Homo sapiens: one gene and its partners. The protein of the gene in region 5 interacts with the protein of the main gene of each other region in a pairwise test. Each region holds a gene or a part of one and is shown on either strand. Other genes may lie near its edges.

Region 1 (3,500 bases), on a different chromosome or scaffold from region 5:
CACAACCCCAGGGGCCAGCCAGGCCCCCAAGGCCTTCAACAAGCCCCACCTGGCCAACGGGCACGTGGTTCCCATCAAGCCCCAGGTGAAGGGGGTGGTCAGGGAAGAGAACAAGGTGCGTGCTGTGCCCACCTGGGCCAGTGTCCAAGTTGTGGATGACCCTGGCTCCTTGGCCTCAGTGGAGTCCCCGGGGACCCCCAAGGAGACGCCCATCGAGCGGGAGATCCGTCTGGCTCAGGAGCGTGAGGCAGACCTGCGAGAGCAGAGGGGGCTTCGGCAGGCAACCGACCACCAGGAGCTGGTGGAAATCCCCACCAGGCCGCTGCTGACCAAGCTGAGCCTGATCACAGCCCCACGGCGGGAGAGAGGGCGCCCGTCCCTCTACGTGCAGCGGGACATAGTACAGGAGACACAGCGTGAGGAAGACCACCGGCGGGAGGGCCTGCACGTGGGCCGGGCGTCCACACCCGACTGGGTCTCGGAGGGTCCCCAGCCCGGACTCCGGAGAGCCCTCAGCTCAGATTCCATCCTCAGCCCGGCCCCAGATGCCCGTGCGGCCGACCCAGCTCCAGAAGTGAGGAAGGTGAACCGCATCCCACCTGATGCCTACCAGCCGTACCTGAGCCCCGGGACCCCCCAGCTAGAATTCTCAGCCTTCGGAGCATTCGGCAAGCCCAGCAGTCTCTCCACAGCGGAGGCCAAGGCTGCGACTTCACCAAAGGCCACGATGTCCCCGAGGCATCTCTCAGAATCCTCTGGAAAACCCCTGAGCACAAAGCAAGAGGCATCGAAGCCCCCTCGGGGATGCCCGCAAGCCAACAGGGGTGTCGTGCGGTGGGAGTACTTCCGCCTGCGTCCTCTGCGGTTCAGGGCCCCAGACGAGCCCCAGCAGGCCCAAGTCCCCCATGTCTGGGGCTGGGAGGTGGCTGGGGCCCCTGCACTGAGGCTGCAGAAGTCCCAGTCATCTGATCTGCTGGAAAGGGAGAGGGAGAGTGTCCTGCGCCGGGAGCAAGAGGTGGCAGAGGAGCGGAGAAATGCTCTCTTCCCAGAGGTCTTCTCCCCAACGCCAGATGAGAACTCTGACCAGAACTCCAGGAGCTCCTCCCAGGCATCCGGTGAGAAGGGGCTCCAGGGAGTGGCTGCTTGGCTCAGGGTCTCAGAGGTTGGAGCAGGGGAGGGTGGGGAGGTGGAGTTTGAGGCTGTCAAAGGGCTGGGGTTGGGGAGACATTGCCTCCTGACTGTTCATCCCCTCAGTCGCTGGTTTGTCTGCCTGTCTATTAAAAATGTAGATTTTGGAGAGAAATGTCAACTTTACCTTAGGGCTTTTGCTTTATGGATTTGGATGCCTTGTTGTTAGGCGCATAAATGTTCATATATGTTTTGTGTGTTTTGTTTTTGTTTTTGTTTTTTGTTTTTCGGTTTTCTTTTTTGAGACGGAGTCTCGCTCTGTCGCCCAGGCTGGAGTGCAGTGGCAGGATCTCAACTCACTGTAACCTCCACCTCCTGGGTTCAAGCGATTCTCCTGCCTCAGCCTCCTGAGTAGCTGGGATTACAGGTGCCCACCACCACTCCCGGCTAATTTTTGTATTTTTAGTAGAGACAGGTTTCATCATGTTGGCCAGGCTGGTCTTGAACTCCTGACCTCAGGCGATCCACCCTGCCTTGGCCTCCCAAAGTGCTGGGATTACAAGCATGAGCCACTGCTCCCGGCCTGTTCATATATGTTTATCCTCTTGGACAGTTGCACCTTTTTGACAATATGAAATATTCCTTGTGTCACTTTTAATGTTTTTTTTTTTTTTTTTTGAGATGGAGTCTCGCTCTGTCACCCAGGCTGGAGTGCAGTGGCGCGATCTCGGCTCACTGCAAGCTCCGCCTCCCGGGTTCACGCCATTCTCTCGCCTCAGCCTCCTGAGTAGCTGGGACTACAGGCGCCTGCCTCCACGCCTGGCTAATTTTTTTGTATTTTTAGTAGAGATGGGGTTTCACCGTGTTAGCCAGGACGGTCTCGATCTCCTGACCTCGTGATCCACCCACCTCGGCCTCCCAAAGTGCTGGGATTACAGGCGTGAGCCACCGCGCCCGGCCACTTTTAATGTTCTTCACCTTGCATGTCGGCCCATCTGTGCATCCAGTTTCTCCTGACTGGCTACTTTGGTCAATCTGTCAGTTTCCCGGATAGTCATCTGCTCTGTCTGTCCATACATCTGTCTCCTTAGCTGCTGGCTAGAGACTCTGTCTCCCGAGCAGAGGTCTGACAAATGTTCTAATGTTCTGCCCTCCCTGCTCCCCTACAGGCATCACGGGCAGTTACTCGGTGTCTGAGTCTCCCTTCTTCAGCCCCATCCACCTACACTCAAACGTGGCGTGGACAGTGGAAGATCCAGTGGACAGTGCTCCTCCCGGGCAGAGAAAGAAGGAGCAATGGGTGAGTCTGGAACCCGTCTCTGCAGAGGCCAGGCTGAGGTCAGACAGCCCCTATTAGGGCCACAGGAAGTTCAAGCAGGACTCAAGCCTGACCTGGGTTCAAGCACTACCCCCACCCCTGGCCGTGCCTCAGTCTCCTGCAGATGTCAGGTAGAAGATGATAAACTTGGTGTCCTTGTATCTCTGGGCTTCTGCTTGGAGAGGCCATATAAGCTGGGGTCTTTGTCCCCATCAGGAGGTCATCTCCAGGATCAAAGACCAAAGGACCAACTCTGCTTGGAGGAGGAGGACACTGGCAATTTGTCATCGTCACCAGCATTAGTTTCTTTTTTTTTTTTTTTTTTTGAGACGGAGTCTCACTCTGTCGCCCAGGCTGGAGTGCAGTAGCACGATCTCGGCTCACTGCAACCTCCACCTCCCGGGTTGAAGTGATTCTCCTGCCTCAGCCTCCTGAGTAGCTGGGATTACAGGCGTGCACCACCACGCCCGGCTAATTTTTTTGTATTTTTAGTAGAGACGTGGTTTCACCATGTTAGCCAGGCTGGTCTCAAACCGATCTCAAGTGACCTGCCCACTTGGGCCTCCCAAAGTGCTGGGATTATAGGCATGAGCCACTGCACCTGGCCACAGATATTTACTTCTAAGAAAGAGAGAGAGAGAGAGAGAAGGCAGGAGGGAGGGAGGGATGGAGGGAAGGAAGGAACAAAGCGAGGAAGGAAGGGAGGGAGGGAGAGGGAGAGACGGAGGGATGTGTCTGTCACACGCTGGCTCGGGGCTTCCAATGAACCACACCTTTAGCACCCTGGTGGTCTCACATGCCCAGGGTTAGGCAGCTCATGAACCCAGGCTTGACTCCAGGACCTACAGGCCACAGAGCTTTGCCTTAGGGGTTTTACTTTATGAATTTTGATGCCTTGTTGTTAGACATGTAATTGTTCATGTATGTTTATCCTCTTGGATGAGAGCTCCTTTTGTCAGTATGAAATATTCCTCACGTCACTTTTAATGACACGAGGAATATTTAGTGCCATGAGGAATATTATGTCCTTTTTTTTTTTTTTTTTTTTTTGAGA
Region 2 (3,500 bases), on a different chromosome or scaffold from region 5:
ATATTTGATTCCTTCCTTCCTTCCTCTCTCTCTCTCTCTCTTTCTTTTTTTTGATGGAGTCTCGCTCTGTTGCCCAGGCTGGAGTGCAGTGGTGCAATCTTGGCTCACTACAACCTCAGCCTCCCGAGTAGCTGGGATTACAGGCGCATGCCACCATGCCTGGCTAATTTTTGTAGTTTTAGTAGAGACAGGGCTTCAACATGTTGGCCGGGCTGGTCTTGAACTCCTGACCTCAGGTGATTTGCCTGCCTTGGCCTCCCAAAGTGCTGGGATTATAGGCGTGAGCCACCATGCCCAGCCCTTGACTTCTTTTTTTTTTATTGTGGAGAAAGGGCTGTGGCCAAAGTCCAAATCTGAAGATGATCCTACAGACTTCTTGGTAGAACTTTACTGCTGCCCTCTCAGACTTTTCTCCAGAGCAATCCAAGACCAAAAAAGTGCTTTAAGTTCATTCATTTCTCTAACACACTCGCCATGCTTCTTACCCACTCAGTAGCCTGCAGCTGACAAGACCAGACAGCTGGTGATTGTGGGTAGGTTAGGAAACTGAGCTGAGTGTCCCCTTTTCTGGGATACTGCATGTCCAACAAGGCCCAGTGACAATGCTGAGCCTGACCCTTTTCATGAAGGCTCAGTGATTCTTCTCCAGCCATGAGGTGCCTGAACTTCCCCTGCTAGGGACTTTACACATGTTGTCTCCTTAAACCCTCAGCAACATGGTCAGGTAGGTACTAAGTAGCATACTAATTTTATGGCTGACAAAACTGAGGTTAGAGAGATGGAGTGATTTGCCCAAGATCACACAGCTAAAAATGGTAGAGCTGGGATTTATACCTGCACCCCAAGCTATATGAGACAGTAGCAGTGTGTGGTCAGTGGCAGAGGAGATGGTGGTGCCCATCAGCTGGTGACTTCGGTCCAGTGGTATTTGTAGTAACAAACTCAAACTCACTGGATTTTCTTGTGTGTTTTCTTTTATTGCTGCTGTGCTCAACTATTATCAGAAAAAGTTAAGTAACAAAGCCAGCTGAGATCAAGGGCTCATTTTAAAAACAACAACCAGGACAAGCAGTGATCAGGAGATTTATGTATTCATGTATGTATTTACAGCCTGCCTTGTTCCAAAAAGGATTTAAGGGGCTGGGTCTAGGATTTGCTTTTAGGAGATTGTAGAAACAGTCCAGCCACCCATACTGCACCCACCAGGGTATTATTCAGGGGTCATTTGGCTTCCAAAAGAGGTCACCTGAGACCTAGCATGTTCCCTAATTAGCAGAGAAAGTTTGAATCCTTCAACTTGATTAAGAGTAATTTAGGATGCTTTCACAAGCAAAGATTGAAAGAAATTGTGGTTTCATAAGCAAAGATTGAAAGAAATTATGGGAAGAACATGGGTTTCAGAGTCAAGAAACCTGGGTTTCTAGTCTTGGGTCTGTCTACTGTCTAACCCTGGGCAAGTCACTTTACCACTCTGATAATTAGTCTTCCCATCTGTAGTGCAGGAGGTCAGATTAAATATTCTTTCCAGTGCTTTTGGATTTAGCTTTTCAGAAGGCAGAAGATCACCTTCACCTGTCCCTCCAAATTCTTTCTGATTGCTGATTTCCCACCAGGACTTCGTCTTCTATGCTCCCCGGCTGCGGATTAACAAGCGGATCTTGGCCTTGTGCATGGGGAACCATGAACTATACATGCGCCGTCGCAAGCCTGATACCATTGAGGTGCAGCAGATGAAGGCACAGGCCCGGGAGGAGAAGCACCAGAAGCAGATGGAGCGGTAGGTGCTGCACACTGATGTGGGGGGCCAGGGCTGGGGCAAGGAAGCTTCTCAAAGGTGCCCTGCATGCTAAGTCAGGACATGAGGCCAACCTAGGACTTCATAGATGAGAGGTTAGACACCAATATTCACATTTATTCAGAAAAAATCTACCAAGTTTGAGGGGCAGTTTTTACAGAGCTGGATCTAGCAGGAAACTGCCCTGTAGGACCTCACAGTCTACTCAGTCTAGTAGCAGAGAGAGGGAAAACAATATATACATAACTCAAGGTACAAAGGCCATGTCATTCATTCACTTAATAAATATTTATTGAGCAATGAATAAGAAAAGACCAAAAATCTCTGCTTTTGTGAAGCTAGCATTCTAGTGGGGAGGAGACGAACATAATAAATAAGCAAATTATGTGGTACATAAGATGGTTAAGAAGTGCTATGGAGACAAAAACATAGAAGAGGGATGGGGAGAAGGGTAAGCCAAGTATTCTGAGGGCCCAGATGGAGAATACCTAGCCAAGGGAGATAAGAAGGTTCCTGGAAGAGGTGCTAGGGCAAGAAAAAGCAAAAGCAAATACTTATTCCAGATTTGTAACAGACTCTGGGAAAAAGAAGCCTAGAGCTGGGCTTTAGGGCAGGCAGTGTTAGACCTGAGGACTGATGCACTAGCCGTAGAGATTACTAGACTTGAAGCACTTCATCCCAGCACAGAGCCAAAACTTGTCTCCCTAACAAGGTGGATAGGGCAGGTCTTATTGGACCATTTTCAAGATAGGGGAACAAGAGCAAAGCAGTGACATAGCTAAGGTCACCCAGTGGGTTGGTGGGAGAGCTAGGATTCCTGACTCAGGGGTACATTGACAGGGCCCCGTGTACACTGGCCTATGTGGGGCTATGATATGAGGACAAGGGTATAGAGGTAAGGGAGGGTGGCCCAAACTCACAATCCCTAAGTGTGTTGGGAAGGTTGGGTTGAGAGACCCAGAGGCAGCAAGCCTTGGAATTCCCCAGGCTTTTTTTTTTTTTTTTAGATGGAGTCTTGCTCTTTTGCCCACGCTGGAGTGCAGTGGCGCAATCTCAGCTCACTGCAACCTCCGCCTCCTGTCTTCAAGCAATTCTCCTGCCTCAGCCTCCTGAGTAGCTAGGACTACAGGCGCATGCCACTATGCCCAGCCAATTTTTTTTGTATTTTTAGTAGAGACGGGGTTTCACTGTGTTAGCCAGGATGGTCTCGATCTCCTGACCTCGTGATCTGCCCACCTCGGCCTCCCAAAGTGCTGGGATTACAGGTGTGAGCCACCGCGCCTGGCCTCCCCAGGCTTTTGTGGAGCGTTGTTATCCTGTTCTATCCATTTTATCTCCTTCCCTAGTGCTATGCTGGAAAATGAGAAGAAGAAGCGTGAAATGGCAGAGAAGGAGAAAGAGAAGATTGAACGGGAGAAGGAGGAGCTGATGGAGAGGCTGAAGCAGATCGAGGAACAGACTAAGAAGGCTCAGCAAGGTGAGGCTTGGAGTCACCTTGGAGATTGGATTTTTCCAGGCCTAACTCTGAGCTGGAGAACCTTCTGCCTGAGCTGTAGACTCAGACAATGTAGTTCAGGTGTGGCTACAGACTAGAAGAAGAATGGGCAAGAAGAGAGCTCAGAACTTTCTGCCAGCTTTGTCTTGGGGTGGATCATTTCCAGGAACGAAGCTATTGTGTCGTCTTTATCTCTGTGCTCTTCACTGC
Region 3 (3,500 bases), on a different chromosome or scaffold from region 5:
ACAGCCAACATAATGCTGAATGGGGAAAAGTTGAAAGCATTCCCTCTGAGAACTGGGACAACATAAGGATGCCCACTCTCTCCACTCCTCTTCAGCACAGTACTAGAAGAAGTCCTAGGCAGAGCAATCAGACAACAGAAAGAAATAAAGGTCATCCAAATAGGTAAAGAAGTCAAACTGTCACTGTTCACTGATGATATGATTGTTTACCTGGAAAATCCTAAAGACTCCTCCAGAAAGCTCCTAGAACTGATAAAAGAATTCAGCGAAGTTTCTGGATACAAAATTAATATACACATATCAGTAGCTCTTCTTTACACCAACAGCGACCAAGCTGAGAATCAAATCAAGAACTCAACCCCTTTTACAATAGCTGAAAAACAAACAAACAAACAAAAACTTAGAAATATACATAACCAAGGAGGTGAAAGACCTCTACAAGGAAAACTACAAAACACTGCTGAAAGAAATAACAGATGACACAAATAATGAAACAAATAATGGAAACACATTCCATGCTGATAGGGTGGGAATCAACATTGTGAAAATGACCATACTGCCAAAAGCAATCTAAAAATTCAATGCAATTCCCATCAAAATACCACTATCATTCTTCACAGAATTAGAAAAAACAATCCTAAACTTCATATAGAACCTAAAAAGAGCCCGCATAGCCAAAGCAAGAATAAGCAAAAAGAATAAACCTGGAGGCATCACACTACCTGATTTCAAACTATACTATAAGACCATAGTTACCAAAACAGCATGGTACTGGTATAAAAATAGGCACATAGACCAATGGAATAGAACAGAGAGCCCAGAAATAAAGCCAAATACTTACAGCCAACTGATCTTTGACAAAGCAAACAAAAACATAAAGTGAGGAAAGGACACCCTATTCAACAAATTGTGCTGGGATAATTGGCAAGCCACAAGTAGGAGAATAAAACTGGATCCTCATCTCTCACCTTATATAAAAATCAACTCAAGATGGATCAAGGACTTAAATCTAAGACCTGAAACTATAAAAATTCTAGAAAATAACATTGGAAAACCTCTTCTAGACATTGGCTTAGGCAAGGGTTTCATGACCAAGAACCCAAAAGCAAATGCAATAAAAACAAAGATATATAGCTGGGACTTAATTAACCTAAAGAGCTTTTTCACGGCAAAAGGAACAGTCAACAGAGTAAACAGACAACCCACAGAGTGGGAAAAAATCTTCATAATCTATACATCTGACAAAAGATTAATATCCAGAATTTACAATGAACTCAAACAAATTAGCAAGGAAAAACAAAGAAGCCCATCAAAAAGTGGGCTAAGGACATGAATAGACAATTCTCAAAAGAAGATATACAAATGGCCAACAAACATATGAAAAAATGTTCAACATCACTAATGATCAGGGAAATGTAAATCAAAACCACAATGTGATATCATCTTAGTCCTGCAAGAATGGCCATAATCAAAACATCATAAAATATTAGATGTTGGTGTGGATGCAATGAACTGGGAACTGCTGGTGGGAATGTAAACTAGTACAACCACTATGGAAGATTCCTTAAAGAACTAAAAGTGTGAAGATTCCTCAAAGAACTAAAAGTAGAACCACCATTTGATCCAGCAATCCCACTACTGGGTATCTACCCATTGGAAAAGAACTCATCATACAAAAAAGATACTTGTACATGCATGTTTATAGCAGCACAATTTGCAACTGCAAAAATATGGAACCAACCCAAATACCCATCAATCAATAAGTGGACAAAGAAAATGTGATATATATGATGGAATACTATTTAGCCATAAAAAGGAATGAATTAATAGCATTCACAGTGACTTGGATGAGACTGGAGACTATTATTCTAAGTGAAGTAACTCAGGAATAGAAAACCAAACATTGTATGTTCTCACTCATAAGTGGTAGCTAAGGTATGAGGATGCAAAGGCATAAGAATGACACAATGAACTTTGGGGACTCAGGGGGAAAGGGTGGGAAGGGGGTGAGGGATAAAAGACTACAAATTGGGGGCACTGTATACTGCCTGGGTGATGGGTGCACCAAAATCTCACAAATCACCACTATAGAACTTACTCATGTAACCAAACACGACCTGTTCCCCAGTAACCTATGGAAATAAAAAAAATTGTTTTTAAAGTAGTGGGATAACATCAGCTTTCCCAGGTAGAATAAGAACTTGATTGTTACGTAGAAAGAAAAGAAAAATTATATTTAAATACTGTGTTTAAAAATATACTTTTCATGGAATTTTATAGCAGGCTGGGCTCCTGATTATCATGTATTCTAACCTTCTGAGTTTATAGACGAGGAAATTAGAGATTGTGACTACAAGGTCACAATGTTAGCTGGTAGGAGACCCAGAATTAGAATCCAGGTCTTCTAACTCCCAGGAAGTGCTCAGAATGCCACAATAAACATAAAAATATTTGTATTTACTTCAAGATGAAGGGGGGAAATGCTGCATAAATATTTTCATATCACACACAATTATAAAAAGCCAAGTCACATTTTTAATTTTACATTATTATAAGCATATATGGTACGTGTTTGACTTGCCAATTTTCAGCAGTGACACAGACAAGAAATAAATTTTGTTAATTATTCATGTCATTTTAGAACTGATATTTATTGAGCACTAAATATATAATAAACTATATAAGTCCTTACCTTCATGAAGTATACACTCAGGTGGGACAGATAAACACTAAACAAATCAGCAACACAAATTATAATATAGTGCTGCAAAGGGGAAAAAAAAAAAAGAGAGGGAAGTGATATAGAAAAATGAGGAGGAACTGCCATAGCAGAGTGGCCAGGAAAAGCCTCACTGAAAGGAAAGATGGAGTCAGCCACTTAAGGATGGTGGGGAAGCTATTTCAGATAGGAGAAATGCCATGTACAAAAAGGCCCTGAATTGGAATTTTCAAATGCTGCCATTTCAAGGAAATCAGTAAAAATAAATCCAATGTATTGAAACATGATAGGTGAGAAAAAGGACCCAAGATGAGGCTGGGGAGAGAGCAGGGAGGGCCAGCTCCAGTAGGGCTGTGAGGAACCTGTAGAGTTGGATCTTTATAGATGATAGGGAAGCCATGGAAGTGTTTCAGTCAGTATGTGACATAATCTGATTTTCAAAAAATAAGCCTGGCTGCTCTGTGGAAAATAAATTTATGGTAATAGTGAGGATGAAAATAAGTAAATGAATTAGTTACATATTTTAGAAGCAGAAACAATAGAACTTGCTAATAGATTAGATGTGGATTGTGAGGGGAAAGAAGAATGAAAGATGACTTTCATGTCACAGTGAGGTGAATGGTGGTAATGTTTACTGTATTGGTTAAGAAAGCCTGATGGCATTTTCCCAGAAAAATGACATAATCAGAGCTGAACTCTAGAGAATAAACAAGGCAGCATACCTGTTATAAGCATAAGGACTAGGAATGAGACTAAAACAACAGTTAGGTAGTCATTTGGC
Region 4 (3,500 bases), on a different chromosome or scaffold from region 5:
ATAATCCCAAAAAAAACCCTTTATACTTATTATTTATTTATTTATTTTGAGACGGAGTCTAGCTCTGTCGCCAGGTTGGAGTGCAGTGGCGCGATCTCTACTTATTGCAGCCTCTGCCTCCCGGGTTCAAGCGGTTCTCCTGCCTCAGCCTCCTGAGTAGCTGGGATTACAGGCACGCGCCGCCACACCCACCTAATTTTTGTGTTTTTAGTAGAGAGAGGGTTTCACCATGTTGGCCTGGCTGGTCTTGATCTCCTGACCTCGTGATCCACCCACCTCGGCCTCCCAAAGTGCTGGGATTACAGGCGTGAGCCACCGTGCCGGCCAGTAATTTTTATTTTCTCTTCCTTGAATTATAGATCTAACATTGAAATTTGTTTGGAAATGCTTAATTTATAATACACTTCAAAACTAAACTGACAAATTATTTAAAATAAAAAATTTGAAGTTTTAAATAATTGATATTCTGATTATTAAAAATAGATTACATTTTATATACTAAATTTTAAATCACTAAATTATCACATTTATAAAAGAATATAATTTAAAGAAATAAGTAACCAAATAAATATTGCTCTAAATACTTAATAAGCTATTTTTTCCAGAATAAAAATATTTATATGAAACTTACATTTGCGAAGTTCTTAATTGCAATATGCTAATCTTCTGCATTGCAATGTATTTAATAGTTAGATAATTCAAATGATGTAAAATTTCAAAACCTGAAAAGTTTCTAAGAATAATATAAATTAGTGGCTACTCTATGATAATTATCAAAATAGTGCTTAATGTTGAAGATGTGCCAAGTTCAGCCGTGCCATTTTTCTGAGCAGTTTTGAACTTTAGACATTGATTTCATGTAAGGTTAAATTGCACATTAATACTTGTTTATAAACATACAAAGGTAAAGTGTTGCCCATATATGTGCATTTCTCTTACCAATATTCAAAGGGCAGATTTATTTTTAAAAGTTATTTTTCAAAATGGAATCAGCATATTTCAACCAAAATGTAAACTCTGGTAACACGTATTTTTCCCTCTGCTTATATTATGGACAATAACTTGAATGTCTTTGGCCAAAAAAAAGCTTTAAAATTTTTCCCACTTTCAGGGCATTTGTGATTGTTATTAAATAGTGCAAAATTATATGATACTAGTTTAATTTTATTATACAAAGAAGGAAATTGAGAATTCAGAATCATAGAGCTTAAAGCATATTTTTCTTGAGGACATCTGTAGAATTACCAAAGGGCTAAACTATGCAACTGAGTATAGATACTATTGATTACCATAATCTAGAGTTTCTATTTTCAGCTTAAACTGTAAAGACAGATGTCCTGATTCCTAGTAATTAAAACTGTATGCACATTTCAGCTATGCATATACCTATCTTTTGTCTTTGAAAATTCAGTGTAGAATATTCTAACTTGTCTTACATATTAATATTACATTGTAATTAATATTTTGCAGTGCCATTCAGAAGTCCTTATTGTCTCTGAGGATAGAATATTTATTTTGGCTTTTTTATACCCACAGTTAATATTGGGGCTAGAAGTACTTAATTCCATTTACTTCTGAATGGCAACAATGTTCTCTGCTTCCTGATGGCCGGTTCTCTTCTGTTGAAAGCATAAAACTCCAATGGAATAAAATTGAGTGGCCAAAAAACCTTATATAGAGAATCATAGGGACTGGAATACATTTGCCCTTTTAGGAAGTATTTCATGAATTAATGCCTCAATTTTATTCAAACTATATATAAATAATTGTATAGTTCTTGAAAAATTTTCTACAAATGGGCATACTGTCTCAAGAAAGATACATTGCATATCTGATACTCTAAAGTAATTGGAGTGACAGATTTATAAGCTTTGGGTATCTTCATTTTGGGGTTGCAGATATTAATTTGGCAAGTTTAATATAACACTAGCTACAGACTGAGATGTCAGAAATAGAGAATAGTCTATAAATACTTGAACTTTTTAAAAGTTCAGAATTAAGTTGTGAAAATAGTTGAATTTAAAGATATAATCTGAAATTCTTATGAAGCATTTACTTGCACATGCATTTGAAGTGAAGATAGTCTTCTAGAATCCTGAATGTGATTTTCTAGTGTATTATTTTAAAAACTGGCTGTCCTTGTGGATGTACTATTCTCAGGAAGATATAAATGATATTGCACTAAATTTGTCTTCATATTAAAGTTAATTTTTGTAAATAAGTTATGATTTATAGACAATGAAATCTTAGGCAAATGCCAGCAGAGTGTCTTTGAAATTCATAATGTTATCTGTTATGAAAAACATTCTTTGACCTGGTTACATTTTAACCAGTAGTATTTCAAAATAAAATTAATGATCATGTATCAGTAAAATGTATTGTATAAAATAGCAGGGAAAGGTAATTGCAAATTTTTCAAGGCTATGTCAATTTTAATAATATTTTGGAAAATTATAAAATTTAGAAAAGCTTTTAAATAGCGGCTTTCCATTTCTTAGAGACATTTACATCTACAATATGATAAGTAAGCATAATTAAGATCTTGTTGGATGAATGTTGAAACCATATTTATAACCATCATTTCATTTTGTCAGGTATGTTTTACTAGGTCATTGCATAATGCATTAAAAATGGAAGAATGACAGAAAAATGAGTTCACCAAAAAAGAGAAAATCTTGTTTATTTTCAGATCCAAAACTTTTTCTTGCTTATGATATCGAGGTTGAAATTCTAGGTGAAGCACATCTCTATTTGTGGCTAAATCTACTTTATTATAAAGCCAAGGTAAATTCATTTTATCATAAGAGGACCAGGTTGAACTGATAAGTGAAAGCAGATTGTGGGTAGAGGACCTGGCACTGTTATTTGCATTTATCTTCACGATAAATAATGTTGAGTAGACAATTCCCAGAATTTGAATAATGGTCTATAACCTCTAACTGCCAGACATTTGCCATACCAGTTTTATGGTGGTCACAAGTGTTTTGATACTAACGTATTTTCCTTTACTTGGAGGAGGGAGGATAAATGGAATAACCATAAATCAAGTAATAAATGGCTAGGTTAGAACTTCTGTTTACTTTTTTCAACAGCTTTATTCATTTTGCTTGCTTAAAGTGTAATGCTTGTTTTGTGATAAACGGTGCCTACATTTTTGCTTTGTTTTTTAAGCTACAGTGTCACATCTTTTGCTTTCACAAACCTATACTAACTTAAATATACATATGGTTGTGGAATGCTTATGATGTATCCTGTTTTGTGGGGATACAAGATGATTAAGGCAAGTCCCTGTCCTCAGACAGTTTACAATCTAGCCCTCTGCCAATACAGTTCCTCAACATATTCACCAAAGTTACTTTTAAAAAATTGGTAAATCTGTATTTTGAACATTTGGAACAAACGAAATTAAAACTTGTACTTTCATTCTTCTTGTGATAACCTTAACTAGAAGAACTACATTGCATCTTATATATTTTTTTCTAGACTATTTCCGTTAATGT
Region 5 (3,500 bases):
TTATAACAAAAACCCCCACTTCCTTCAACAAATTCTCAGGAGAAAAATAACATTCCTTTTTAAAAGTATGTTTATGCAAACAATGGGTTTAAAGGGTGGTTTGATCACTTTTTTAAAATAAACTTAAAACTGAGCTCTGAGTTTCAGAGACTGGGCAAGATCATAGTAACACAATAAGGGAGTGAATTGGATGAATTGGTGCCTCATGCCTTTTTGATCAGCAGAATTTAGTCACTAATCCTTTCAATAGAAGATTAATCTGAAGGTTTCATTTCCCTGAAGGAAGTTTGCTTCTTTCAAAGTTTGTGCTTTTTCACTGAGGTTAGAAACTGAAACATCCTAACTTCCTAATACAACAGATATCTACTGCTGGAGGCTCACCAGCTCCTTCCTTCACTTCACTATTTGCCCAACGAAGACAGATTCTGATCAAAGAGGGACAAGCCAGTTGAGAAATTGCTGCAGCACATTCTCCCCATGCCCTTAGAAATTGTTATGATTGTCCCAGAAATCCAGGCTTAAATGATACTCAGGTGTAATATTCAAGATAAGGGTCTGGGAGAATATAAAATATTAATTTGAGGGTGAATCAATCTAATTCAGTCATTGTCTTGGATTGTCCACTAAGTATAATGTGATATTATCATTAATTAAGTATAGAAAGACAGAGCCAATATCTTATACTTTACTTCTCCATCTCATCTCAGGCCATCACCGTAACTCTTTTACTTTACATTCCTCCTGTTGTCCAGTATCCTACTAGATGCTTCATTGTGTACTTCCTCAAATCCAGCTTGGGTCATTACAATCAGCATCTCCAAATTACAGATGGAGACTTGCCTAGCTATATGCAAATGAAACATTTGGACAGAAAGCCAGCCAGAATTCATGAACACAGATTCCCTTGCTGTGCTACTGGTGGCCCCCACTGCCTCCCCTGTGAGTAACAAGAGCAGTTCATTTGAATTCCAGGCAGTTTTGCACCAGCTAAGGGCAAATTCTCTTCTTTCACAGTCCTTTGGCAGCATCAACATCGGGACATCCAATGTGCGTCCAGGTTCCATGAGTGGTTTTGAAAGCCCAGAGTAAGACCATGGGCTGTGGAAAGAGAAGAGATGCAACTCTGAGTTGATACACATGAAAAAGCTAGGGTATTAGTTATTAGAAGGGGAAATGGCAGTCCTTATATACAATCTGTAGAAACAAAGGAAAGAAAGCAAGGCTTCAGTGAATGAAACCTCGTCTCTACTTAAAATAAAAAAAATTAGCTGGGCCTGGTGGTGGACACCTGTAATCCCAGCTATTCGGGAGGCTGAAGCGGGAGAATCACTTGAACCCAGGAGGTGGAGGTTGCAGTGAGCCGAGATTGTGCCATTGCACTCCAGCCTGGGCAATAAGAGTGAAACTGTGTCTCAAAACAAACAAACAAAAAACTATAGTTTTGAATTTTTTTGAGCTAGGGTCTCACTGTGTTGTCTAGTCTAGAGTGCAGTGCTCACTGCAGCCTCAACTTCCTGGGCTCAGATGATCCTCCCACCTCAGCCTCCTGGGTAGCTGGGACTACTGGCTCATGCCACCAAGCCTGGGCAATTTTTTATATGTTTTGTAGAAACAGGATTTTGCCACGTTGCCCAGGCTGGCCTCAAACTCCTGGGCTCAAGTGATCCTCCTGCCTTGGCCTCCCAAAGTGCTGGGATTACAAGCGTGAGCCACTGTACCTGGCCATTTTTTTTCCCCAGATAAACTAACTTGAGCTTCCCATTTTCTTGTTCCAAAGATGATAGTCTCATGAAGTGCTGTTACACTGTGTCTAGAAAGTGTGGGCATGGCTTTAGCACTCCTAAATATTCATAAGGAACACTTCATACTTCACATGACGGGATCACCTGAAGTTGTCAGAGTGTTATAGACATTGAGCCACCTAGCCTCCTGTCCCCAAGTATAATGGCTGCTGGGCTTTATGGGCACAGACCAATTAGGACACAAGGTCGCCTGGTAAGTTAGTACCAGTTAGAAATAGGAGACATGGATTTATACCTGCAGGGTACCCAGGAGGAAACTCCCTTTGGGAATTTTACAGATGGAAGAAGGTCTGTTTTTTGAAACATAATAGATTTTTAAGAAATAGATTTGTGTTTAAGTAAGGTTCCAGAGAACACTTGCTAATTATTATAAATCAACACGTATTAAGTGTTTGCTGTGTCCCATGTGGGGGACACTAGAATAATTCCTTCCACTCCTTTATTTTCTTTTAGCAAAGTTATTTATTTTTAAATGTAAAAATGTATTCAGATTCCAGTGAAGCAAAGTGAACAGGAGATGCTATGCATGGCGTATTAACGAAAGAACACGTGTCACAGCCTATTAACAATTGCTGGATTGAGATGTCAGTGTCTGTTTAATTGCCTTCCACTCTCTTTGAAATAATCATTGCCCCCACTTCATTTTCTTCCTCAAATCAACTTTATCCAAATCAATTTTACTCTTATAAAAATGTTCAGGTAAGGAAAGAAAGGCCTATTTGATGTCCTTCGTGTAACAATGGCCTTACGATATGGGATTTTCCTCCAAGTATTCCTTCAGTAGGAAGAATGGAAAATGGAATTTCTGTAAAAAAGTAAAATTAGGAGAATTCCTATTATGTCCTGATGGAATTTTGATTTTGGAAAGAGAAAGCAACCTAAAATAATTTTTGGTCTCATTCTTCTTTCTTCCTCACCTCTGCTTTTGTGCAGTTGGTTAGGGCTGGAGGGAGGATGGCACTGGGGATTTGCAGATTCTTAGCACTCTGGGTCATCTGCTGCCCTGGCAGTGAGCGACTCTTTTAGTCCAGAGTGCGTCCTTTGAGGTTAGGCAGTGCCCTTGGGTGTCCAGGTTATGGGAGGAGGAAAATGAGGGAGATCTGTGAAGATAGAGTCAGCGGGGAGAGTGGGAAAAAGCAGAAGGAGACCAGAGGTGCCCAGGTAGTGCTGGGCATGGGCAGGGGCACAGTGCCACCTGCAATTGCCTTTGATGCCTCTTGGTGCCCTGTGTTTACTTCTTAGACATCTAGGGAGTAAGGTCTGGCTCTTTCCCGTCTTAACCCAAGGTTGGTTGGGACTCTGCAGTCTGGCCAAGGGATGTGTTGTCCTGTCCCTTCTCCCTTAGGTCACTGAAAGGCAGTCAGGTGAGATGCCCTGTCTGGCCCAAAACGATCTCGGACCCTCGGTGCTGGTCTCACTCTGGTGAGGCTGTCCCTGATGCTTGGCCTTCTCTCCAGGGAACCAGTGGATGAGGTGCTGCAGATCCCCCCATCCCTGCTGACATGCGGCGGCTGCCAGCAGAACATTGGGGACCGCTACTTCCTGAAGGCCATCGACCAGTACTGGCACGAGGACTGCCTGAGCTGCGACCTCTGTGGCTGCCGGCTGGGTGAGGTGGGGCGGCGCCTCTACTACAAACTGGGCCGGAAGCTCTGCCGGAGAGACTATCTCAGGTACCCTCCCCGGCACTCCACTGGG
Region 6 (3,500 bases), on a different chromosome or scaffold from region 5:
CTGCCTCAGCCTCCCGAGTAGTTGGGATTACAGGTGTGTACAGGTATGCACCACCATGCCCGGCTTAATTTTTGTATTTTTAGTAGAGACACAGTTTCACCATGTTGGCCAAGCTGGTCTAGAACTCCTGGCTTCAGGTGATCTGCCTGCCTCAGCCTCCCAAAGTGCAGGGATTACAGGCATGAGCCACTGTGCCTGGCCTTAACATTTTTTTGTAGATACAGAGTCTCACTATGTTGCCCAGGCTGGTTTTGAACTCCTGGGCTCAAGCTGTCCTCCTGCCTCAGCCTCCCAAAATGCTGGGACTACAGTCATGAGCCATCCCACCCATTCTAAATGCTCACTGTTATAATGTTTTAGGAGCAAGCAGTGTGGTGTGTGAGATGGCATACCTAAAACCAAAAATGTATTTGGAAGTTGGTTTTAGGCAACCCAGCAATGCCTGCATAGGTTTTCTTAGGAAGAAAACATATCTCTGAACTTTTCTTTCTTTTTTTTTTTTTTTTTTTGAGACAGAATCTCACCCTGTCACCCAGGCTGGAATGCAGTGGCATGATCTCGGCTCACTGCAACCTCTGCCCCCTGGGTTCAAGTGATTCTCCTGCCTCAGCCTCCCAAGTAGCTGGGATTACAGGCACCTGCCATTGCACCAGGCTATTTTTTGTATTTTTAGTAGAGACGGGGTTTCACCATCTTGGCCAGGCTGGTCTTGAACTCCTGACCTCATGATCTGCCCGCCTCGGCCTCCCAAAGTGCTGGGATTACAGGTGTGAGCCACCATGCCCGGCCTTCTCTTTTTAATTTGATTTTTACTATTATGACCTCAACTAGTAGAGATTTGCATAACTTTCTTAGTCCCTCCAATATTTCTGCAGATTGACTTTGCCTAGATATGGATTAAATTCCTATTATGAAGGGGAGATAATGAAGTGATTTTGACTATCCTTTAAACTTACTGAAGAGGCAAGGTGTGAACTGATACCTGAAATGTGTTCCCCTAGGCTTGGTACTTTTGCAATAGTGAATATAAGGTCAGAACACATATACTTATAAAGTATGTATACTTATGTATGTTCTGACCTTATATTCATACATAGTTATAAAGCATGTCAGTGAGCATTCAGCCTTCCGCACACCCATTCAAAGAATGCAAGGGTTCTAGGGGGAATTTATGATGTGGAATTTCCCAGAGCCAGATAGCATTAGCATGAGAGGATCTATCAGTCCAAACCTGGGAAGTAGGATTTCATATTTAAAATTTTCTTTTTCAGTATCCCTAAAGAGATTAATTAGATGCCAGTTGACTTCGTGCCTTGTAGTCTTTCTTCTTAGCTTGCTTGCAGGCTTAGCTTGACTTGGTCTAGTGCCAGAGGAGTCTTGCTGTCTTTGGTGTACTTTTCCTAAGAGTTGAATTGTGTTGGTTTTTGTTGTTTGACACAGAGTCTTGCTCTATCACCCAGGCTGGAGTGCAGTGGCGTAATCTCGGCTCACTGCAACCTCCACCTCCCAAGTTCAAGTGATTCTCATGCCTCAGCCTCCTGATTAGCTAGGATTACATGCATGCGCCAGCCACCACACCCGGCTAATTTTCATATTTTTAGTTGAAACGAGGTTTCACCATGTTGGGCAGGCTGGTCTTGAACTCCTGACCTCAAATGATTATCCCGCCTCGGATTCCCCAAAGTGCTGAGATTACAGGTGTGAGCCACTTTGCCCAGCTTGAATTGTGTTGTTTTTATTTTTTTGTAAGTTTTTTAAATTTTTTATTGTTTTCGAGATGGAGTTTCACTCTTGTTACCCAGGCTGGAGTGCAATGGCACAATCTCTGCTCACCGCAACCTCCACCTCCCGGGTTCAAACAATTCTCCTGCCTCAGCCTTCCGAGTAGCTGGGATTCCAGGCACGTGCCACCACACCCAGCTAATTTTGTATTTTCAGTAGAGACGAGGTTTCTCCATGTTGTTCAGGCTGGTCTCGAACTCCCAACCTCAGGTGATCCGCCCGTCTCAGCCTCCCAAAGTGGTGGGATTACAGACGTGAGCCACCGTGCCTGGCAAATTGTGTTAGTTTTAAAACAATTCCCTGAAGCTATCTAAAAGTCTTTTGGCAAAATCCCCTTTGAAATAGCTTTATTAATGAAAAGTAAAGCCATGTGTAGAATTTCACAAAGGAGCAAGTACCACTCACTCATTTAAATGACAGCTACCGAGTGCCTCTATCAGAACACAGTGGTTGATGATGATGACAATAAGGATTTCCCTCATTTACCCCTCCCCAGAACCCTAGGAAGTGGGTGGTTTTTCACTGTTTGTTTTTCTTTCTTTCTTTAGTTTTTTTGAGACGGAGTCTCGCTGTGTCGCCCAGGCTGGAGTGTGGTGGCGCAATCTCGGCTCACTGCAAGCTCCGCCCCCCGGGTTCACGCCATTCTCCTGCCTCAGCCTCCCGAGTAGCTGGGAATACAGGCACCCGCCACCACGCCCGGCTAATTTTTTTGTATTTTTAGTAGAGACCGGGTTTCACCGTGTGAGCCAGGATGGTCTCGATCTCCTGAGCTCGTGATCTGCCCTCCTCGGCCTGCCAAAGTGCTGGGATTACAGGCGTGAATCACTGCGCCTGGCTCTTTTTTTTTTTTTTTTTTCATATGGATTTTTGCTCTTGTTGCCCAGGCTGGAGTGCAATGGCGCGATTTCGGCTCACCACAACTTCCGCCTCCCGGGTTCAAGCGATTCTCCTGCCTCAGCCTCCCAAGTAGCTGGGATTACAGGCATGCACCACCACGCCTGGCTAATTTTGTATTTTTAGTAGAGACGGGGTTTCTCCATGTTGGTCAGGCTGGTCTCCAACTCCTGACCTCAGGTGATCCACCCGCCTCAGCCTCCCAAAGTGCTGGGATTACAGGTGTGAGCTACTGCGCCTGGCTCTTCACTGTGTTTCTAGATAAGGAATCAAGTGGCCAGATAACTGGAGGGTAGTTGGATGGAGATTTGGGCATGCTCTATTGAACTCTGAGGCTGTACTGCCTGCCACCTGTCTCTGCTTTTCCCAGGGATCCTACAAAACTCACTTAAATCTGACATCGCTTCCTGCTCAGAGGAGCCCAGCTGATTGGGTGCCGTGGGAGATCAGACAGTCAGGCTCGGGCTTTACAGGACACTTTTAAAAGTACATTCTCGCAAATTAAATGTCATCTACTCAATAAACATGTATTTTGTGCCAGGTCTGGTGCTGGGCTTGGGAATGCAGCAGTGAGTTCTGAAAGGAGATTCATTATTTGGAGAGGCAGACATTGGAGAGTGCGGTGACACGGGGACCAGAGAGGGCAATGAGGAGTTAGCCCTTCAGCAAGACTAGAGCTTGTAGAGCATGGGCAATCAGAGTGCATGACTCTGGAGTCTAGGTGAAGTCAGGCGGGGGACAAGGAGCCTTGAGGAGATGGCCAAGATCTGGACTTGAGGCTTTGCCTAGGCAAAGAAAGTGGATGCGGCATTGTAGGCTTGGTG
Region 7 (3,500 bases), on a different chromosome or scaffold from region 5:
GAAAAAATTCGTATGTGAAATGTTAAGTTCCACCACCCAAATTCAACACTATTAATATTTTTATATATTTTTTCCAGAGATTTTTAATGCTTAATAATTTTATTTTTATTTTCTACATATAAAAGTAATATATTACCACTAAGTTCAGAAAAGTACAAAGAAGCAGAACAACACTCAGTCACAATCCCATTACATAAGTGCAGCCACTTGAATATGCTCTTTATCTTTTTTCTCCTTCCGTTGTTTTTGTATGAATGTCATAATTGAAACCATACTCACTGTATGTACAATTTTGGTTCTGGATTTTGTTTTTCTTTTCAAAATGGTAGCTTTCATTATATAAACAGTACATATTTTTGTGCAGAGAAAAAATATAAATATAAAAATTATAAGATATAAAAAATACATATTAGTATATACATTATAGAAATTCATTAATATTCTATGTGCTTTATTCTCTAAACTGTACAAGGAATACAGTTTCGTGTCAATAAATAATCATATGATAGATATGTATATTGTTTTATTTTATTCTAGTTTAGTTTTTTTTTTTTTTTTGAGACAGAGTCTCGCTTCATCACCCAGGCTGGAGTGCAGTGGTGCGATCTTGGCTCACTGCAACCTCTGCCTCCTGGGTTCAAGCAATTCTTGTGCCCCAGCCTCCAGAGCAGCTGAGATTATAGGTGTGCGCCACCACACCTGGCTAATTTTTATATTTTAGTAGAGTTGGGGTTTGACCATGTTGGCCAGGCTGGTCTCGAACTCCTGACCTCTGGTGATCTGTCCGCCTTGGTCTCCCAAACTGCTGGAATTACAGATGTGAGCCACTGCACCCAGCCTCTTAGTTTTTGTGACAAGATTTTACTCTGTCACCCCAGGCTGGAGTGCAGTGGCACGATCATGGCTCACTGCAGCCTTGACTCCAGGTGCAAGTAATCCTTTTACCTCAGCCTCCTGAGCAGCTGAGATGACAGGTGTGTGCCACCATGCTCAGCTAATTTTTGTTTTTGCGACGGAGTCTCGCTCTGTCACCCAGGCTGGAGTGCAGGAGTGTGATTTCGACTCACTGCAACCTCCCCCTCCTGGGTTCAAGCGATTCTCATGCCTCAGCCTCCAGAGTAGCTGGGATTACAGGTGCCCACCACCACGCCCAGCTAATTTTTGTATTTTTAGTAGAGACAGGGTTTCACCATGTTGGCCAGGCTGGTCTCGAACTCCCTACCTCAGGTGATCCACCTGCCTTGGCTCCCCAAAGTGCTGGGATTATAGGTGTGAGCTACCGTGCCTGGCCATGCCCAGCTAATTTTTAAATTTTTTGTAGAAATGGTGTCCCATTATGTTGCCCAGGCTGGTCTTGAGCTCCTGGAGTCAATCAGTCATCCTGCCTCAGCCTCCCAAAGTACTGGGATTACAGGCATGAGCCGCTGTGCTCAGCCAAATTGTATGATTTAAAAAAATGTTTTTTAACTCAAAGAGCATTGCAAAAATATACAGAGAACTTTTATATACCCTTTATACAGATTTACCAGTATTTAACATTTTGCTTGTATTTGCTTTATTTTCTTTGTGTACCTTGAGATTTATTTTTTGTGAACCACTTGAAAGGTAGGTTACAATACATCATGCTTCTTTACCCTTTAATATATGTGTATTTCCTAAGAAGAATATTCTCTTATGTAACCATGGTAGAGCTATCAAGTTTAAGAAATTTAACTTGGCTACAATAATTGAATCCATGTGGCATTTCATCAGTTTTCCCAATAATGTCCTTGGTAGCATTTCCCCTGCAGTACAGGACCTGATCTGGGGTCACATACTACATGTAGTTGTCAAATCGTCTTTTTTTTTTTTTTTTTCGAGACAGAGTCTCGCTCTGTCGTCCAGGCTGGAGTGCAGTGGCGTGCGATCTCAGCTCACCCTAACCTCCGCCTCCCAGGTTCAAGTGATTCTTGTGCTCCAGCCTCCCAAGTAGCTGGAATTACAGATGTGCACCACCGTACCCTGCTAATTTTTGTATTTTTAGTAGAGATGGGATTTTACCATGTTGGCCAGGCTGGTCTTGAACTCCTGACCTCAGGTGATCTTCCCGCCTTGGTCTCACAAAGTGCTGGGATTACAGATGTGAGCCACCGCACCCAGCAAATCATCAGTTTTAATAGATATAGTTGTATCTTCTGGATATATTTCATTTGTTTTCCACTAATTGTCATATAGGTTGTTTGTAATCTTTTTAAAGGTTTTGTCACTTAGCATCGTGTTTTTTATCTTTATTTATTTATTTATTTTTTAATTATTTTATTTTATTTTTTTGAGACGGAGTCTTGCTCTGTCACCCAGGCTGGAGTGCAGTGGTGTGATATCAGCTCACTGCAAGCTCCGCCTCCCAGGTTCATGCCGTTCTCCTGCCTTAGCCTCCTGAGTAGCTGGGACTACAGGCGCCCACCACCATGCCTAGCTAATTTTTTGTATTTATAGTAGAGACGGGGTTTCACCATGTTAGCCAGGATGGTCTCGGTCTCCTGACCTCGTGATCCGCCCACCTCGGCCTCCCAAAGTGCTGAGATTACAGGCGTGAGCCACTGCGCCCGGCCTAGTTTTATTTATTTTTTTTGAGACAGGGTCTTGCTCTGTCACCCAGGCTGGAATGCAGTGGCACGATAGGTGTGTGTCACCATGCCTGGCTGATTTTTGCATTTTTTTGTAGAGACAGGGTTTTGCCATGTTGCCCATGCTGGTCGTGAACTCCTGGCCTCAAGTGATCTTCCCACCTTGGTGTCCCAGAGTGCTGGGATTACAGGTGTGAGCCACCGTGCCCAGCCCATAAGTGTTTTTTATTTATTTATTTATTTATTTATTTATTTATTTATTTAATTTACTCCAGCCCTGGCTGGAGTACAGTGGCACGATCTTGGCTCGCTGCAATCTCCACCTCCCAGGTTCAAGCAATTCTTCCTGCCCCAGTCTCCTGAGTAGCTGGGATTACAGGCATGTCTCACCACACCCAGCTAATTTTTGTATATTTAGTAGAGACAGGGTTTTGCCATGTTGCCCAGGCTGGTCTTGAACTCCTAAGCTGAAGTGATCGCCTACCTTGGCCTCCCAAAGTGCTAGGATTACAGGTGTGAGCCACTGCATCCAGCTATTATCTTAAAATATATTTGCAAACATGGAAATAGTGGGTTTAAAGATCAGATCTGCCAGGCGCAGTGGCTCACGCCTGTAATCCCAGCACTTTGGGAGGCCGAGGTGGGTGGATCATGAGGTCAGGAGTTCAAGACCATCCTGACCAACATGGTGAAACCCCGTCTCTACTAAAAATACAAAAATTAGCCAGGCGTGGTGGCACGCACCTGTAATCCCAGCTACTCAGGAGGCTGAGGCAGGAGAATCACTTGAACCCAGGAGGTGGAGGTTGCAGTGAGATTGTGCTACTGCACTCCAGCCTGGGCAACAGAGCGAGACTCCACCTCAAATAAATAAATGGGCAACAGAGCGAGACT

The links.
Region 1: the proteins of LMO2 (region 5) and MISP interact in binary tests that used the Homo sapiens proteins (3 or more experiments, as listed by UniProt).
Region 2: the proteins of LMO2 (region 5) and MSN interact in binary tests that used the Homo sapiens proteins (3 or more experiments, as listed by UniProt).
Region 3: the proteins of LMO2 (region 5) and EFHC1 interact in binary tests that used the Homo sapiens proteins (3 or more experiments, as listed by UniProt).
Region 4: the proteins of LMO2 (region 5) and PAX9 interact in binary tests that used the Homo sapiens proteins (3 or more experiments, as listed by UniProt).
Region 6: the proteins of LMO2 (region 5) and PBX4 interact in binary tests that used the Homo sapiens proteins (3 or more experiments, as listed by UniProt).
Region 7: the proteins of LMO2 (region 5) and ISY1 interact in binary tests that used the Homo sapiens proteins (3 or more experiments, as listed by UniProt).

What each region holds. Positions count from the first base shown.
Region 1 is NC_000019.10:757,612-761,111, forward strand, and holds part of MISP (mitotic interactor and substrate of PLK1), read left to right. Parts: coding exon 1-1,115; intron 1,116-2,297; coding exon 2,298-2,428; intron 2,429-3,500. UniProt on the Homo sapiens protein: Plays a role in mitotic spindle orientation and mitotic progression.
Region 2 is NC_000023.11:65,733,654-65,737,153, forward strand, and holds part of MSN (moesin), read left to right. Parts: intron 1-1,613; coding exon 1,614-1,777; intron 1,778-3,141; coding exon 3,142-3,272; intron 3,273-3,500. UniProt on the Homo sapiens protein: Ezrin-radixin-moesin (ERM) family protein that connects the actin cytoskeleton to the plasma membrane and thereby regulates the structure and function of specific domains of the cell cortex.
Region 3 is NC_000006.12:52,426,842-52,430,341, reverse strand, and holds part of EFHC1 (EF-hand domain-containing protein 1), read right to left. Parts: intron 1-3,500. UniProt on the Homo sapiens protein: Microtubule inner protein (MIP) part of the dynein-decorated doublet microtubules (DMTs) in cilia axoneme, which is required for motile cilia beating.
Region 4 is NC_000014.9:36,668,360-36,671,859, forward strand, and holds part of PAX9 (paired box protein Pax-9), read left to right. Parts: intron 1-3,500. UniProt on the Homo sapiens protein: Transcription factor required for normal development of thymus, parathyroid glands, ultimobranchial bodies, teeth, skeletal elements of skull and larynx as well as distal limbs.
Region 5 is NC_000011.10:33,864,577-33,868,076, reverse strand, and holds part of LMO2 (rhombotin-2), read left to right. Parts: intron 1-3,259; coding exon 3,260-3,475; intron 3,476-3,500. UniProt on the Homo sapiens protein: Acts with TAL1/SCL to regulate red blood cell development. Also acts with LDB1 to maintain erythroid precursors in an immature state.
Region 6 is NC_000019.10:19,608,688-19,612,187, reverse strand, and holds part of PBX4 (pre-B-cell leukemia transcription factor 4), read left to right. Parts: intron 1-3,500.
Region 7 is NC_000003.12:129,140,564-129,144,063, reverse strand, and holds part of ISY1 (pre-mRNA-splicing factor ISY1 homolog), read left to right. Parts: intron 1-3,500. UniProt on the Homo sapiens protein: Component of the spliceosome C complex required for the selective processing of microRNAs during embryonic stem cell differentiation. Required for the biogenesis of all miRNAs from the pri-miR-17-92 primary transcript except miR-92a.